Linked DNA regions of Homo sapiens: all the other regions are linked to region 2. The links come from fine-mapping of genetic effects on gene expression. A gene starts in region 2. Each other region holds a variant in brackets. All regions are shown on one strand. Distances are between the middles of the regions. Region 1 has its middle 9.7 kb from the start of CYP2A7. Region 2 holds the start of CYP2S1 (cytochrome P450 family 2 subfamily S member 1). Region 3 has its middle 22 kb from the start of CEACAM3.

Evidence for each region. PIP is the estimated chance that this variant, and not a neighbour inherited with it, causes the effect.
Region 1: its variant is fine-mapped to the expression of CYP2S1 in subcutaneous fat (TwinsUK, PIP 0.95).
Region 3: its variant is fine-mapped to the expression of CYP2S1 in coronary artery (GTEx, PIP above 0.99).

Annotation. Positions count from the first base shown.
Region 1 is chr19:40,890,575-40,893,333 of GRCh38, reverse strand. It overlaps the pseudogene CYP2G1P. Among named protein-coding and RNA genes, the nearest start is that of CYP2A7, 9.7 kb to the right of the region's middle. The variant A/G (reference allele first, on the strand shown) is at 1,386.
Region 2 is chr19:41,192,052-41,194,777 of GRCh38, reverse strand. CYP2S1 (cytochrome P450 family 2 subfamily S member 1) reads right to left here and starts at 1,559. Exons shown (of 9, transcript NM_030622.8): 1 at 1,337-1,559; 2 at 69-234. The coding sequence starts at 1,513. It overlaps LOC124904790, which reads left to right and starts at 1,726. Exons shown (of 3, transcript XM_047439802.1): 1 at 1,726-1,798. The coding sequence starts at 1,726. RefSeq lists enhancers at 1-222, 1,533-2,033 and a silencer at 1,531-1,620.
Region 3 is chr19:41,817,408-41,820,166 of GRCh38, reverse strand. No RefSeq gene overlaps it. Among named protein-coding and RNA genes, the nearest start is that of CEACAM3, 22 kb to the right of the region's middle. The variant G/A (reference allele first, on the strand shown) is at 1,327.

The DNA.
Region 1 (2,759 bases), 300 kb after region 2:
TAGAAAGATAGATGGATAGATAGATAGATAGATAGATAGATAGATAGATAGATAGATAGATTGATAGGCAGAATGTGGTGAGCCTCCTTGGAATTGAAGGATGTGGGCAGTTAGAGATGGATGCATGAGAGAAAGAGATCTACCTAAGTGAAGGAGGCAGAGACCTATGGGTTAGGTATGTGTATAAGTATAGGAAGATGAGAAATAAGGTTAGCTATAAGGGGTATGAGGGTTGGCTATGGGTGCATAAAGAATATCACTAATCCCCCGGGCTCAGTGGCTCACACCTGTAATTCCAGCACTATGGGAGGCTGAGGCAGGTGGATCACCTGAGGTTGGGAGTTCGAAACCAGCTTGACCAACATAGAGAAACCCCATCTCTACTTAAAATACAAAATTAGCCGGGCGTGGTGGCGCATGCCTGTAATCCCAGCTGCTCAGGAGGCTGAGGCAGGAGAATGGCTTAAACCCAGGAGGCAGAGGTTGTGGTGAGCCAAGATCATGCCATTGCACTCCAGCCTGGGTAACAAGAGTGAAACTGTCTCAAAAAAAAAAAAAAAAAAAAATATATATATATATATATATATATATCTCACTAATCCATTAAAAATAGGAGCAGAAATAACACAGAAAACAGTTTGGAGTCAGATGGCATAGGCTCAAAATAAAATTATCCTACCACTTACTGTGTGACATTATCTAACCTTTATCTTAGCTTTTTCTTTTTTTTTTTGAGACAGAGTTTCACTCTTGTTGCCCAAGCTGGAGTACAATGGTGCAATCTCAGCTCACTATAACCTCCGCCTCCAGGGTTCAAGTGATTCTCCTGCCTCAGCCTCCTGAGCAGCTAGGATTACAGGTGCCCACCACTATGCCCAGCTAATTTTTTTTTAAATTTTTAGTAGAAACGGGGTTTCACCACGTTGGCCAGGCTGGTATCAAACTCCTGACTTCAGGTGATCTGCCCGCCTCAACCTCCCAAAGTGCTGGGATTACAGGCATGAGCCACCATGCCTGGCCTATCTTAGCTTTTTCATTGACAACATTAGTATAATGTTAACAGCTCTCCTAAGGGAGTCAATACAGTAAGTCATGTGGACTACTTACCAAAGAACCTGGCATATAGGGAGTGCATTGCAGTCATTTCCGGTTTTATTGTTTTTGTTGTTGTTGCTACCTACCATGACCTTGGAAGTTTTGCTTTATTGAAGCCAGTTCTCCACGGCCACTGAACTCATCCGCTTGGTCTATCAAGGCTTCCTTCACTGCTTCGTGTCCACATAAAACCACCACTGGCCGGGACCCATGTACACAGTGAACACAGGGCTGTATTTCTCCCTGAGCTTGGAGTGAAGGAAAACACAAGAGGAGGGGCTGACTGGAGT[A/G]CCAAGCATAGGCCAGTTGAGGATTTTAGAGGATGGCGATTTTAGAGGGATATAAACATGGTACTAAGGAACCAAGGTAAATCTGGGCTTGGAAGGAATACTGGGAAAGAGGCACGGAAGTCTTGGCTTCTGTCATTCTCGGCAAAAGCTCATCCCTTCCCACAAGAGTTACTGTCTGCATCTCCAAAATAAGGGACCTGGATTCGATAAATTCCAAGATTCATACTTCTCTCTCTGAAATGTTAAATTTCTAGAATCTTAAGACTTCATGATACCAAGTCTCAAAGTGCTAAGACAAGCTGAGTCAAAGAATCCTGTGTTTAAAAATATAATGTACTGTGATTCCAAAGTCCTGAGATCATGAAAATCTTATTTCAATGCACTGAGAATGTGTGTTTCCAACATTTTAGGATTCTGGAATTTCAGAATTCTAAGATTTGCAAAGTCTGTGTTTCTGAGAGTCTATCTTTTAGAAGTCATAAGTTTCTATGTGAATCTGGCTATAGGATTAGTTGCTTTTAGCCCTATTAAAGGAGACAGACAGACTCACCTTCATGAAAGACTGAAACGTAGCATCAGTTCGAACTTGCAGCAGGTGCCCCAGGAAAAGAATTGGTGTAGGACCTGGGGGCAGCTTTCCTGCCTTATCCATTCGTTTCCAGGCAATGAGGATGAGCAGGCAAGACAAGCGGAGTGCCAGAAAGATGGTGACAGCCCCTCCCAGCTCCATGGTGCCAGGTCAACAGGTTCTGTCCTGGGCACCAGATCCTGCCTAAGTAGGTCCTGGGAGATCAGCTTATACCAAAATCTGAACACCCTGGGATTCAAGTTTTCCGGGTTTGAGTGTCATCGGGGAAGAGATTGCTTTATATTGGGGGTGGTTATATAACCTATAATCTCCCACCTGAATAAAGGTAAATTGAATTCACACAGGGAAATCCTCTGGGGCCATTCCCCTTTCTTCATATTTCCAGTCTCCCTGTTCTTCCCTCTCAGCTCAACAGAATTGAACAGAATTTCTTGGTGGGGTGTAAGAGGCAAATTATTATCTTTTTAGGCTATTGATTTTAGGATCCAGACAATCTGGGTACAAGTGGCAGCTCTGTCTTTTCTTCACTGGGAAAGTCACTTAACCTCTGGGACTTGTTTCCCCATCTATCAAACAGGGAAACCATGTTGTTTTATTTTTTTTTATTGTTTTATTTTTTGAGACAGATTCTCACTCTGTCACCCAGGCTGGAGTGTAGTGGTATAATCTCATTTCAACTTCTGCCTCCAGGGTTCAAGCGATTCTCATGCCTCAGCCTCCCAAGTAGCTAGAACTACAGGCGCACACCACCATGTCCAGCTAATTTTTGTATTTTTGTAGAGATG
Region 2 (2,726 bases):
GTGCAAAGGTCACACACCAGTAAGTGGTGGCAGGCTGTGAGCGGAGGGCCTAGCAGCCCTTGACTTACCATGGCCATCAAAAGTCCCTTCCAGCATCGCTACGGTTCCCCGGCCGCTGAACTCCTCAGCCTGACCTCCCAGGGCCTCCCGCACAGCCTCCTGCCCAACCAGGACCACCACAGGCCGCCAGGGTCCCAGGTAGATGGTGAACACCGGTCCGTACTTCTTACTCAGCTGGGGGTAGGGAGGAAGAAAGAGGAGGGTGCTGTGACCTCTTCGATCCAAGGTGTCTCCATCATGGCCCCTGTCACTTGAGGAGCCACCGGGTCTAGCTTCTACGCCCTCTACCAGGAACCTGCCCCCATCCCAGCAGAAATAGCTGAGGCTCAGTTCTCTTTTTGCACTAGGCTCCCGGGCCTCCTCCCCCAGTACATCCTTCAGTGGCATCCCCCAACTTCCTGTCGTTCCCTTGCTTCCTGCTGAACCCTAACCTCTGACGCTGGGCAATCCAGAAGCAGTTTGGGTCTCCCTTAATTCCTTAGGGCCCTCCCTGCCCCCCAAATATCCAGCCACCCCTTTCAGTCACCACAAAACCCTGAAATTCTGGAGCAGACACTGCTGAGTATCCGCCCCATCTCTCCCCCAAGACCCCACCCTTTTTTCTACGTCCTTGAAGTCACCCAGAATCCTTTTGAATGGGAAACTTCAGGCCTCTGCCCACTCCCACCTGCTATCCCCTAAGGCTGGGGCTGCCTCTGCCTTCTTTCTTGCTCTCCTTCCTCCCCAGTCCCAGGAACTCCCAACTGAGCTCCACCCATCCTCCCATCCTGCATTCTCTGCTGGCAGATTCCTTCAGCGGGACCCCCTCTCTGAGCCTGCAACCCTCCAGCCTCTTCTCTGCCTCCAACTCCCCGCAGGGACGCCTCCCCCTTTTCTTCTTTGTGCCCTCTTCAGCATGCCCCACCTGTATGGCTCCAGCTACCTCTCCCTCTGGGACAAGCCCAGCTGCATCAGCTTCTCCTCGGCTGGAGGACTCCTGTCTCTTTCAGCCTCGGTCCCTGCCCATCACCTTCCCAGGATTCTGTAGGCAGAGGTCTCTGCCCCTCCTAGCCCTGGTCCCCCACCCCACGATCCTCTCTCCCGGGCACCTCTCCCCTTCTCAGCCCTGGACAACCTGCTCCTGCCCCCAACCCCAGGACAGCAGCAGCCCCTTTGCCTTGGGACCCCTGCCCCTGCCTCCTCCCTAGGATACCCGAAAAGCCCCTCACCCTGGCACTCGGGTTTCTCTCCCAGGAATCCTCCCACCCCTAGCCAGGACGTCCCCAGAGCCCCTTACCCGCATGAGCCCTGAATACAGCGCCCCGGGCCGTAGCTGCAGGAGGTTTCCCAGCAGTGGTAGCGGCGTGGGCCCGGGGGGCAGGTGGCCTCGGGCCCTGGTCCCGGACAGCGCCAGCGTCAGCAGCAGGAGCAGCGCCAGCGCCAGCAGCAGCGCCCAGGTGCCGGTCGCCTCCATCTCGGCAGGTCGGCTCCTTCTCCTCTCCCAGGCGCTCCGCGCGGCTGGGCTAGTTAGGGGCGGGAGCCGGGCGTCTCCCTCCCCAACGAAGTCAGGCGCGGGGCGGGGCAGCTAGCCCAGCCCCCTGCCTCCTGGGCAGGCTTATCTCCCCGCCGCCGGGTTTCTCCCGGACCACCGCCGCCGCCTGATGTCGGGAACTCATGCTCCAACGGATGTCTCCGAGGTCACCCAGGTTTACGCGGGGCTTGGGCGGCGGAGACAGCGCCTTGGGCCCCCGGATAGGGAGTAAGCAAACAGAAGAACCTGGAAGTCAGAGACTTTGGCCGCCTGGAGGTTGCCACACCCCGCATCTGGCGGTGACCCCGCGCCACTCTCCCCAGCTCCTACCTCGCTCATTGTTCGGATGTGGGTTCCTGTGTGCGTGCGTGTATGGGGTGTCTTTGAGTCAATTTTCTCCAGCATCTTACATCTTCACGAACTGAGAGGAAGGACTTGACCTTTAAGGATAAACAATCTGAAGTCCAGGGAGATAAATCGGTTGGCCCCAGGTCAACTTGGCTGAGTGGCAGAGTTAATATTTTGACTTGGGCCAGTTAGAATGATTGAGTCATTCATTCATTCGTTTAGAGGCAGTTTGCAGAGCGGTTAGGACCGTGATGGCTGAAGCCAGACTGCTTGAATTCACAGCCTAATTCCTCTGTGCCTCTGTTAGCCTTGTAAAATGGGGCTAGTTTTCAGGATTAAATAGTACATCTGTGCACACCATTTAAAGCAGACGCAGGTGCACATGTAACAAGCACTAAATAGATGTTAGCTAATATTTCTGCAACTAACTGTTATTGAGGTCTTACTATAAACAAGACCTTGTTCTAGACCCGAGGGTGCAGCTATGAGCGATGGAGAGAAGGGCTCTGGCCTTCCTGAGCTCATATCCACATGCAGATGAAGATGAGATGAAAACAATTTCAGGAAGTGAGAAGGCCTGCCAGGGGAATGGGCTTCTTGAGAAGGAAGAATGTTAGAACCATTTGTGCATGAATTATTGTAGGTTTGGTTCACTGCTGTATCCCCAACATATAGTGCAGTGCCTGACACACAGTAGGCACTCAATAAATATTTGTTATATTTTCAAAGATTGAATGTAGGAGATAAGATTCATGAAGTCTGCAGGGGCCATCTTGCAAGGTCTTGGAAAAGACTGCATTTTATTTCT
Region 3 (2,759 bases), 630 kb before region 2:
ACTAGAAAGTAAGAAATAGGGCCAGGTGCGGTGGCTCACAGCTGTAATCCCAGCACTTTGGGAGGCTGAAGCGGGCAGATCACCTGAGGTCAGGAGTTCAAGACCAGCCTGGCCAACAAGGCGAAACCCTGTCTCTACTAAAAATACAAAAATTAGCCAGGCATGGTGGTGGGCGCCTGTAATCCCAGCTACTTGGGAGGCTGAGGCAGGAGAATTGCTTGAACCTGGGAGGTGGAGGTTGCAGTGAGCCAAGATCGTGCCATTGAACTTTAGCCTGGGTGACAAGAGCAAGACTGTGTCTCAAAAAAAAAAAAAAAAGAAAGAAAGTAAGAAATAGGCTGGGTGCAGTGGTGCATGCCTGGGTGCGGTCCCAGATGTTTGGAGAGCCGAGGTGAGTGGATTGCTTGGGCTCAGGAGTCTGAAACCAGCCTGGGCAACATAATGAGATCCCATCTCTACAAAAAAAAGCCAGGCGGCCTGGCATGGTGGCTCACGCCTGTACTCCCAGCACTTTGGGAGGCCGAGGAGGGTGGATCATGAGGTCAGGAGATCGAGACCATCCTGGCTGATACGGTGAAACCCCATCTCTACTAAAAATACAAAAAATTAGCCGGATGTGGTGGCAGACGCCTGTAGTCCCAGCTACTCGGGAAGCTGAGGCAGGAGAATGGCGTGAATCCGGGAAGCGGAGCTTGTAGTGAGCCTAAATCACGCCATTGCACTCCAGCCAGGGTGACAGAGTGAGACGCCGTCTTAAAAAAAAAAAGAAAACAAAAATAAAAACAAAAAAAAGCCAGGCACTGTGGCATGTGCCTGTAGTTTCAGCTACTCAGGAAGCTGAGGTAGGAGGATTGCTTCAGCCTGGGAGGTTGAGACTGCAGTGAGCAGAGATTGTGCCACTGCACTCCAGCCTGGGCTACAGAGTGAGATCCTGTCTCGAAAAGTAAAAAAGAAGAAGAAAATAATAAATAAAACTGTCTCTATTTGAAGATGACTTGATTATCTATGTAAAAGATCTCCAGGAATTTACAAAAACGTATCTTTTAGAACTAATAAGTGAGTTCAATAAAGTCACAAGATACAAGATCAACATGCAAAATTCAATTGCATTTTTGTATACAGACAATGAACTAGTGGAAACCAAAATAAAAACCTAGTACCACTTACAATTGCTCCAGAGAAAATGAAATACTCGGACATAACTCTACCAAAACATGTACAGGAACTATATGATAAAAATTACAAAATGCCGATGAACGAAATCAAAGGAGAACTAAATACTTGGAGAGACATGTGTTCATGAATTGGACGACTCAAGACAGTAAA[G/A]ATGTTCATTGTCCCTAAATTGATCTACATTAATGCAATTCCTAGCTAAATGTCAGCAATTTTTTTTCATAGACCTAGATAAGCTTACTCTAAAATTTATATGGAAAAGGAAAGGCCCTAAAATAGCCAAAATCATTTGGAAAAGGAATAATAAGATGGGAAAAATCACTCTTCCTCATAAGGCTTGCTATATAGTTATAGTAATCAAGACAACATGGGACTGATTGAGGGATAGACACATATATCAATGGGAGAGAATAGGGGACTTAGAAATAGGTGTGCACAGGTATGTGCGTTAATTTTCGACAAAGTGAAAGAAGAGAGTTCTTAGACTTGACACCCAAAATGCGATCCATAAAAGAAATACTGATGAATTTTTAAATCAAAGTTAAAATCTTCTGCTCTGTGAAAGACCTTGTTAAGAGAAAAAGAAGACAAATACAGATTGGGAGAAAATATTTGCAAATCAGATATCCAGCCAAGGAGTTGTGTCTAGAATACATAAAGAATGCTCAAAACTCAACATTAAAAAATCCAGTTAGAGGCTGGGCGTGGAGGCTCATGCCTGTAATCCCAGCACTTTGGGAGGCCGAGGTGGGTGGATCACAAGGTACCTCCCAAGCACTTTGGGAGGCAGAGGCGGGCAGATCACAGGAAGATCGAGACCATCCTGGCTAACACGGTGAAACCCTGTTTCTACTAAAAATACAAAAAATTAGCCAGGTGTGATGGTGGGCGCCTGTAGTCCCAGCTACTCGGGAGGCTGAGGCAGGAGAATGGCCTGAACCCAGGAGGCGGAGCTTGCAGTGAGCCGAGATCACACCACTGCACTCCAGCCTGGGTGACAGAGTGAGACTCCGTCTCAAGAAAAAAAAAAAAAAAAAATCCAATTAGAAAATGTGAAAAGAGGCTGGGCATGGTGGCTCACGCCTGTAATCCCAGCACTTTGGGAGGATGAGGTGGATGGATCACTTGAAGTTAGGAGTTCGAGACCAGCCTGGCCAACACGGTGAAACCCCTTCTCTACTAAAAATACTAAAATTAGCTAGGCGTGGTGGCACGCACCTGTAATCCCAGCCACGAGGGAGGCTGAGGCAGGAGAATGGCTTGAATCCGGGAGGTGGAGGTTGCAGTGAGCCAAGATCATGCCACTGCATTCCAGCCTGGGCAGGAGTAAGACTCCTCAAAAAAAAAAAAAAAAAAAAAAAAAAAAAAAGGAAAAGACCCGCATAGATATTTCAGCAAAAAGAATATGCAGATAAACACATGAAAAGATGCTCAACATTATTAGCCATTAAAAATGCAAGTTGGGAGGCCGAGGAGGGCGGATAACCTGAGGTTGGGAGTTTGAGACCGGCCTGGCTAACATGGTGAAACCCCGTCTCTACTAAAACTACAAAATTAGCTGCGCGTAGTGGTACACACCTGTAATC